Regions from separate parts of the Homo sapiens genome. Here all the other regions are linked to region 1. Evidence: fine-mapped expression QTL. A gene starts in region 1. Each other region holds a variant in brackets. All regions are shown on one strand. Distances are between the middles of the regions.

Evidence for each region. PIP is the estimated chance that this variant, and not a neighbour inherited with it, causes the effect. A credible set is the group of variants that fine-mapping cannot tell apart.
Region 2: its variant is the best candidate, but not a certain one, in a credible set for the expression of ZBED5 in monocytes (Quach 2016, PIP 0.61).
Region 3: its variant is the best candidate, but not a certain one, in a credible set for the expression of ZBED5 in whole blood (TOPMed, PIP 0.55).

Annotation. Positions count from the first base shown.
Region 1 is chr11:10,856,886-10,859,647 of GRCh38, reverse strand. It overlaps ZBED5 (zinc finger BED-type containing 5), which reads left to right and starts at 1,595. Exons shown (of 3, transcript NM_001143667.2): 1 at 1,595-1,786. It overlaps ZBED5-AS1 (ZBED5 antisense RNA 1), which reads right to left and starts at 1,431. Exons shown (of 3, transcript NR_034137.1): 1 at 1,282-1,431. RefSeq lists enhancers at 123-758, 1,160-1,249, 759-1,396, 1,550-1,929.
Region 2 is chr11:10,896,493-10,899,254 of GRCh38, reverse strand. LOC124902629 (a long non-coding RNA gene) reads left to right here. Exons shown (of 2, transcript XR_007062588.1): 1 at 1-123. Among named protein-coding and RNA genes, the nearest start is that of ZBED5-AS1, 40 kb to the right of the region's middle. RefSeq lists an enhancer at 1-33. The variant A/C (reference allele first, on the strand shown) is at 1,591.
Region 3 is chr11:10,795,012-10,797,773 of GRCh38, reverse strand. It overlaps EIF4G2 (eukaryotic translation initiation factor 4 gamma 2), which reads left to right. Exons shown (of 22, transcript NM_001418.4): 22 at 1-720. Among named protein-coding and RNA genes, the nearest start is that of SNORD97, 5.2 kb to the left of the region's middle. The variant C/T (reference allele first, on the strand shown) is at 1,377.

The DNA.
Region 1 (2,762 bases):
AAATAAAAAAAGATTGGTTTGGGAGCACATATGTAAAAGGTTTTTCTAAAATATGAAACACGAAAATATATTATTCCAATATTATTCTGAAGCCAGACAACTCCCGCAATGACAAAATCCCTTGCTCTTCAAGCGCGACTGTACCCCCTTCCCAAAAACGATTTATGCATTTATGGTTAAAGTTCAAATGAAGCTGATTTAATAGAAATAATTTAAAAATAATAATGAGAATATATGGACAGCTTACTATAGGGTGAGATGATGTTGTAATTGACTTTAAAACATTTGGAACTAAATGTCAGTCCTAGGAAATTATGCACTCCTGTAAATTGTGCTATTAAGGGTTAGGTTTCTTTCAACACTTTAGATATTTGATCAGAAGCATATTTAAGAAAAACGAAAGCTGCCCTTGCTTTTGACCCCAAGTTGAGAATTTTCTATCATTGGTGCAGTGCCTGAAAATACGATCCAATCTTCATTTAGTCATTTGTACGGAGTCTGGAAAGGCTAAAACATTGCAAATAATAGGACCTACTCGTACTTTCCCCGCTTAAGAAGCGTATCTATTTCAAGGTGCCTATTTGGAAAAACAGACTCCAGGTCTCCACCACAGAACTTAACACAAAATGAAAGCACACAACCCGCAGCCTTTGGCTGTGGTGTTTTTGAAAACAAGGAAGGGCACAGAACCATGGCTTAAAATACCCGAAAGCTGCAGCCCACAAAAAGAGTATTTCAGGGCGGGTTGGCCGTTCCCTGCAGGCAAACGTTCGGTGCAGGCGGCCGGGCGTTCCTGCGGGGAGGGCGCCACTGTGATGCAAAGACATCAAGCGGACTTTCAGCTTGCCCGTGGACGCTGCGGTGCCGCTTTCCCTATCCAGTCCTGTTCCCGCGGCTCCCCAGCCTACCCCGGGCCGACCAAGAGGTCCGGCGGGGTCTGCGCCGCATCAGCGCCCGCTCGTCAGGCCTAGCCCTCCGCACAGCCAAGGCCGACCAGACCTCTAGACACTCCGTCGTCGGGTGTGGGGCGGAGAAGTAAAGGGCGAGTTTTCTTCCTAGATTCCAGTGGGAACCAAGAAAAGGAGTTGGCAGCTGTGTAAACTGGACCTGGGGTGCGGCCTCCGGGAACAAAAGAGGTGATAAATGCACAGCAGCCGAGGTTCTGCGTGCTCCTTTGGGGCCACTACGAATCCCCGTGAATCACCCCAGCCCGGGCAGAGGGCCAGAAATGATGAAAATGCAGATTCATGGCTTCCACTCCAGCCCTACAAGATCACCAACCGTATCTGGCAGTACCCAGGAATCTGCATTCTCGACAAGCGTCCGCGCCGACGGGGCTAGTGAAGTTTGAGAACAATTGCTTCCTACCCAGCCGCTCCGCTATCACCTAGGTAGCACGGCCGCTGCGGCTGAGGCTGTGACTGCGGCTGCGGCTGGGCCGCGCCTCAACCGAGCTTGGTCCTTTCCTTTGGTCCCGCCCCGCTGCTCAGCGCGGATTGGTGGCGGGACGCAAATCTGGCGCTGATTGGGCGGCGGCAGAGTCGCTCGTGAAGATTGTAGGGTTCGGGTGCTCTAGAGTGCTAAATTTATCTTCAGACCGGCGACCGCGCCAGCCGCGAATCGGATCTCTATGGAGATGGCCTAGGCGATATCCCTGAGCTGAGAGCATCACCCTGTCCCCGAATCCTTCTTTCCTCTCTGTTTTGTTTTTCATTCCCCTCCCTCTCTCCCCTCCCCCTCCAGTCCACGACGACTGGCTGTTGACCCTGTTCAGGCCTCGGTGAAGGTGAGAAGCAGAGCCGCCGCCGCGGCTAAGCGGTGCGCTCTGAAATGGCCGCTTCCTGGAACTGCCTAAGATGGCGGTCGCGGGCTCTGCTGTGGACCGCGGCGCTGCTGTGCAGCCCAGCCGCGGCAAAATCCGTTCTCTCCATCGCTGATGGAGATGAAATAGAGAGATGGTGTTGGGTGCTGAGACGTTTTCATGTGGTCGTTAGCGCAGGCGGCCGCCCGGGGACGCGAGAGAAGACCTGAGGCGAGGGTGGGCTGCGACTGGTAGGGAGCCCCCCAGTCGTGGCAATCTGTGGGCAGCGCGCACCTGTGACAGGGAGGAGCTGAGGGATAGTTGGCCCTGGCTGCACATCCAGGTGACCGTTTAAAAAAGCATTTAGGTGTTGGAAGGAGCATCTGTTCCCACCTTTTTGGCTGGCCTGCACTCAGATCCTGTCCTCCTGACCCTGAGGGTATTGTTCCCAGCCGGAACCGCCCGAAGATAGGGGAGAAAGGATTGTGATACTTGTCAGTTTAACCGGAAGGAGACTAAAGACGGAAGTTTTCCCCGCTCTTCAGGGAGTGGAAAGGAAACTTTACTCTCAAAGGAGTCCAGATTCTTTGTCCTCGAGAAATTCGGGGAAACACCTTCGAAGAGGTGGGGTTGAGGACCTTCTTTCTGAAAACAAAAGCTTCCTACTCTTCTGTGTCCTCTGGCAACGAGAGGGATCCTGATCTTTTACGTGAACCAGCAGCTCCACAGAGTTCTCCGTTGCAAAATCCAAAAGGAGACTGTGGAAGGAGAATCTGCTTTTTTGCTCCCAATAAGAAGCAGGGCTTTATGCTGTTGCTAGTATGAGACCCTCGACTTTCTGGCAGTTATAATCCATTGTTCATCCGTTTCGCTGCATAACCCAACTCCTAGTAACGAGATTTTTTAGTAGTTGGGGAATTAAAAGTATTCAGGAACACCCAAGTAATGGCTAGACACATGG
Region 2 (2,762 bases), 40 kb before region 1:
CTGCCATAGCCCCTTTGGTCCCTTCACTTTGGTGACCCTTTAGGCTTCCCTTTTTAGACCACAGCTGTCACATGTTTCTGACTCAACTTGCTTCTGCCATGCCAGCGTCACCCCTGGTCTCAGGTGAGTACCCCATGATTCAGGCCCAGACCCTGAAGACCCCCTCCCCTGAGATCACTCCCAGAAGAGGCGGAGGGTGAGGGATTTGTTCCTGGGGTCCCTGCCTGGCTTCTCACCTTCAGCCTTGCGTTGTCTTTCAATTCCAGCACCTGGACTTCCCTGGTCATGCACCCGGGCATTGGCCTCAACTTAGGTCCTGATCCTCGGAGTCCCTCACTCACCTGGGACAGCTCTGTCCCGAACTCAGTTTCTGATTTCATGCTGGTCTTGCCCCAGTTACACCAACCCACCCCCCTCCCTATCTCATTGAGGTCAGAGTGGAGGAGGCTCTCAGGCTTCTGAAGGGAGGGAGGCAACACTGCCTCAAATGGAGCCCTGATGGGGCTCAGAGCCTGTGGGGAGTCTCACAGCTACCTGGGAATCTTTCTGTCCCTGGAGACAGCACAAGTCAAGGCACTTGAGGACTCTCAGTTGTGTGTAGGGAGGAGGATGCTGCTCCAAATAGCGCAGACAAGCATTCAGTTCTAAAACCTCAGAGCTCAGAGCAGCTGAAGAGCAGAGGCAGCCCTCTGGTCCCACATGGCTCACATTCTCTTCCTTGTCCGCCTGACTCCATGTGTGACTTTAGCAACATGTCTGTCGAGGATGTTCTACCCCTAGCCCCTGCACCAGCAAACAAATAAGTCCTCCCAAGGCTCCCCATGCCTGATGTCTCCATTCCCTCCACTCCAGAAGGAGCAGAAACAAGGGCCTGCTCCCCTCCTCCTCCTCTCCAGCCCTCATCACTCCCTTCCCTGGGGGCCAAGGCACTCAAAAACCATCTTCCCCTAAAAGCTCAGGGACTCACTTGGTTTTCTTTCCCAGAAGCCCTAAAGATAGTAGCTTTGCTTAATGAGAATGCCCCATGGTGAAATGGTGAGGACCAAGACTCTGGTGCCTGGTCCACAGGGGAATTCCAGCTCTGCCTCTTGCTAGTGATGAGACCCTAGACATGTGATGGAACTTCTCTATAGTGTTTCCTCATCTCTGAGGTTGGAAAACTAATGGTCCCCACCCCACTGCATTGCTGTGAGCCATATACGCATTAATTAGTGTAAAAATGGTGCCTCCATGTAATAAGTGCCGTGATGCACAAGCTCTCATTTATTGATTTTTCACTGTATGTGAGGCCTTACTCTAAATACCTTACATCCAATAATTCGTTTTTCCTAAGCAAAGTGAAATAGAGACAGAAGGATCATTTTATAATTCTAATTTAAATTATCATTAATATTTATTGCATAAGTTCCATCAACAGGAGTTGAAATGCATTGTTGAAATTCATCACAATATTTGCTACTTTAAAGAATCAAACTGTTTTTACTTTTTTTTCTTGTGCTCTCTCTCCTGGCCTTGTAAGGTTTATGCATAATAAATATTCATATCTGGTCAAAAAATAAACTAAGTTGTAAAAGGTTAGAGAATTTCCCT[A/C]TCTGAACACGCAAACCCAGTGTGTAAAGATGACAAAAATAAACCACCCAGGGGACAGAAACTCCCAGTAGTGCCCCTCCTATGGATACAGGCCTGTATCATAGTATGACATAGTACAGGCACAATTCTGTATGTATCTCTTTTTTTTAGAAACAGGTTCTCACTGTGTCACCCAAGCTGGAGTGCAGTGGCCCTCTCAAAGGTCATTGCTCACTGCAGCCTCAAACTCCTGTCAAGTGATCCTGTCACCCAGCCTCCTGAATAGCTAGGACTACAGGCATGCACCATCACGCTCAGCTAATTTTTAAATTTTTTTGTAGAGATGGGGTCTTGCTATGTTGCCCAGGCTAGGCTCAAATTCCTGGCCTCAGGCAATCCTCTCATCTTGGTCTTTCAAAGTCCTGGAATTACAGGAGTGAGCCACCATACCCTGCCCTGTATCTTTTGACTTAACATTAAATCATAAACAGTTTCCATGTTGCTGTATAGCCTTTGAAAGTATCACTTCAATGACTGTAGAATAACTCATTTAGTTGAATTACTATAATTGAACTGACATCATTATTGAATAATGGTAGGGTTTTTTTGCTATTACAAATGATTCTGTAGTAAACTCTTAGCAGAAATGACATTTTTTTTCTTTCAGGTGATTTCTTAGGCTAATTCTCAGAGATGGGGTTATTGGGCCAAAAAAGCAAACTATGGCTTTCCGAAGCTCTCATTGTTCCCATTATGTCATGCATCCCTGAGATGCAGTCAGCAGAGGATTCTATTTGAGGGACTAAACACTCCCGGGGAAAGCAGGAAGAAGGAGACGGGAACTAACATTTGCTATTGAGCGCCAGGCATCGTCCTACAGGCTTCGAAGTGAACCTTGGATGTGCTGCTGATCTGACCTGCCCAGATTTGTCATCATTGTTATTGTCTTGGCCTCTTATGAAGACGTTCACCCAGCAGGACTTCAGAAGCTTTGTTCACTCGATCTCATTTAATCCTCACAATAGTGCCCTAAGGAAGATATTAGTATCCCCATTTTACAAAGGAGGAAACGGGAACCTGGGGAGATTAAGCGAAGGCCTCACAGATCATGAATAGAAGAGGCTGGAAACCTAGTCTGGTTCAAGGGTGTGCTCTTTCTGCTCTGCCATGCTGTGCTTCAGCCCTTCCCCACT
Region 3 (2,762 bases), 62 kb after region 1:
TATGATGTAACTGCATTTGACCTAACCACTGCGAAAATTCATTCCGCTGTAATGTTTTCACAATATTTAAAGCAGAAGCACGTCAGTTAGGATTTCCTTCTGCATAAGGTTTTTTTGTAGTGTAATGTCTTAATCATAGTCTACCATCAAATATTTTAGGAGTATCTTTAATGTTTAGATAGTATATTAGCAGCATGCAATAATTACATCATAAGTTCTCAAGCAGAGGCAGTCTATTGCAAGGACCTTCTTTGCTGCCAGTTATCATAGGCTGTTTTAAGTTAGAAAACTGAATAGCAACACTGAATACTGTAGAAATGCACTTTGCTCAGTAATACTTGAGTTGTTGCAATATTTGATTATCCATTTGGTTGTTACAGAAAAATTCTTAACTGTAATTGATGGTTGTTGCCGTAATAGTATATTGCCTGTATTTCTACCTCTAGTAATGGGCTTTATGTGCTAGATTTTAATATCCTTGAGCCTGGGCAAGTGCACAAGTCTTTTTAAAAGAAACATGGTTTACTTGCACAAAACTGATCAGTTTTGAGAGATCGTTAATGCCCTTGAAGTGGTTTTTGTGGGTGTGAAACAAATGGTGAGAATTTGAATTGGTCCCTCCTATTATAGTATTGAAATTAAGTCTACTTAATTTATCAAGTCATGTTCATGCCCTGATTTTATATACTTGTATCTATCAATAAACATTGTGATACTTGATGTAGTGATGTGTGGCTGTAAATGGCATCCATAGTCTGGGAGAATTGTCAGCTTTGTTTTTGAGGTATAGGAGACCCACCTTAGTTTGACTTAAGGACTTCCCAATTTTTGTTTTTCTGCTGTACAAGCCTGGGTTCCAGAAGGAATTTTTAGACTCTTCAAGATGAGACACAAGATTTAAGGTGTTTATTTCCTTTGAGTTACTGAAACTAACCAATATAAACGATTTTTATGATCAAAGATCACAAGTCTTATGAATTTGGAGGAACATAGCTACACATAGCAACTAAAATTTGGTGACAATTTATCTTTTGTCAGACTGAAATACATGGTGATCTCTGGATAAGCTTAGCTGTCCTGCAAGCATCATTCCCAGTAGCTGCCCCAAATGTCCAGGAAGATCCCTGCTTCCTCTGGAAAAATTCCAGTGTCCCAGTAAAATTGACTTCATTCAACTAAACCTCTGCATGTTTTCCAAAAACACACACGAAGGATTTGTCTCCAGCCCTGGAACATTCTGACAATCCTAGGATTACTTCTAACATTGGCATGGATGGGGACTCTTGAAGTGTGCTACTGGAGTCCTGGTTGATGTCAACACCTAAGAACCTGTTCTTGGTGATTGGGGAGACCCTCAAGGCAGACTATCATACTGC[C/T]GAACCCATTAGAACCTTGAAGTCAGAAGAGGCTGCCTGCACATGCTCCAGTGGGTGGGAGGCAGAACCAATCAATGTTTTTGTGTCTGTCTTATTTGGGCCAGGGAAGCTAAATCTTGCATTATGGCACTCATCTTCCCCTGAAGTTTTAACAAGTCATAAGCTTTTGGGTACTTTGAGTACAGCAAAATTTAAAGCTAAACAGATTTGTATGAACCTACCTAAATTTTAAAGGGGCTGTAAATTGTTTCTCTGCCCAACCCTCCCCACGAAGGGGAGGAAACTAATTTTTAACCTAGCAAAAGGAGCAACTGGTTAGGTGGATCAGCTAGTCAATTCTTATTGCCAGAATTTGCCTAATTCAGCCAGGGTATCAGGCTAAAGGAAGTTTTAGAACTAAACCTGGGCCTGGGTGCAGTGGCTCACGCCTGTAATCCCAGCACTTTGGGAGGCCTAAGGCGGGCGGATCACCTGAGGTCGGAGTTCAAGACCAGGCTGACCAACATGGAGAAACCCTATTTTCTTCTAGAAAAATACAAAGCTGAGTGTGGTGGTGCATGTCTACAATCCCAGTGACTCGGGAGGCTGAGGCAGGAGAATGGCTTGAACCTGGGAGGCGGAGGTTGCAGTGAGCCGAGATGGCACCATTGCACTCCAGCCTAGGCAACAAGAGCGAAACTCCGTCTCAATAAAAAATGAACTAAACCCGGTACGCAGTGGTTTGTCATTGCTTACAGAATCATGCTTTAATCTTCCCACCCCAAACATGTCAAGAGCTACTCAAAATATTCAACCCATAGAGAATGTATAATACTGCTGCTACCTTGTTCTAAAGACACCTAACAGTGTACTTTATAATCTACCATACTGTGGAATGGCAGTATCTGGGTATAACTGGGATGTACCTTGCATGATTGCCAATTTCTTTAGTATCAGCATGTAGTGACTAATCTTCATTCACTTCATGGTGACTTCAAAATAAGATTGCATGTCTTTACTGCCCCCAATTTTTTTTTCCTTTACTGCAAAATTGAAAGAGTTGTCTAATTTTCCCCATTCTGAAGCCTCAGTAGGGCTTCACTCCCCTGGTTCCCCACACCAAAACTTTCTTAGGGTCACCAGTAACTCCAATGCTATATCCAGTAGGTTTTGATCCTCCTGTAGGCAGCATTTGACAAGTTACTCATTCCTTGAAAGTGTTAACTTGTTCCCAGGACATCTTTTTCTTCTCAGTTTCCAATGGGAGATGCCTGATCTCAACACTTTTTCAGTTGTTGTCATACTCTGCATCCATTCTAGCATCAAATCATGTTGATTGCATTCCAAACATTTTAGAAATTGAAGAACTCATTTCTTCAACCACCACCCTCATTTCTTACCTAGGTA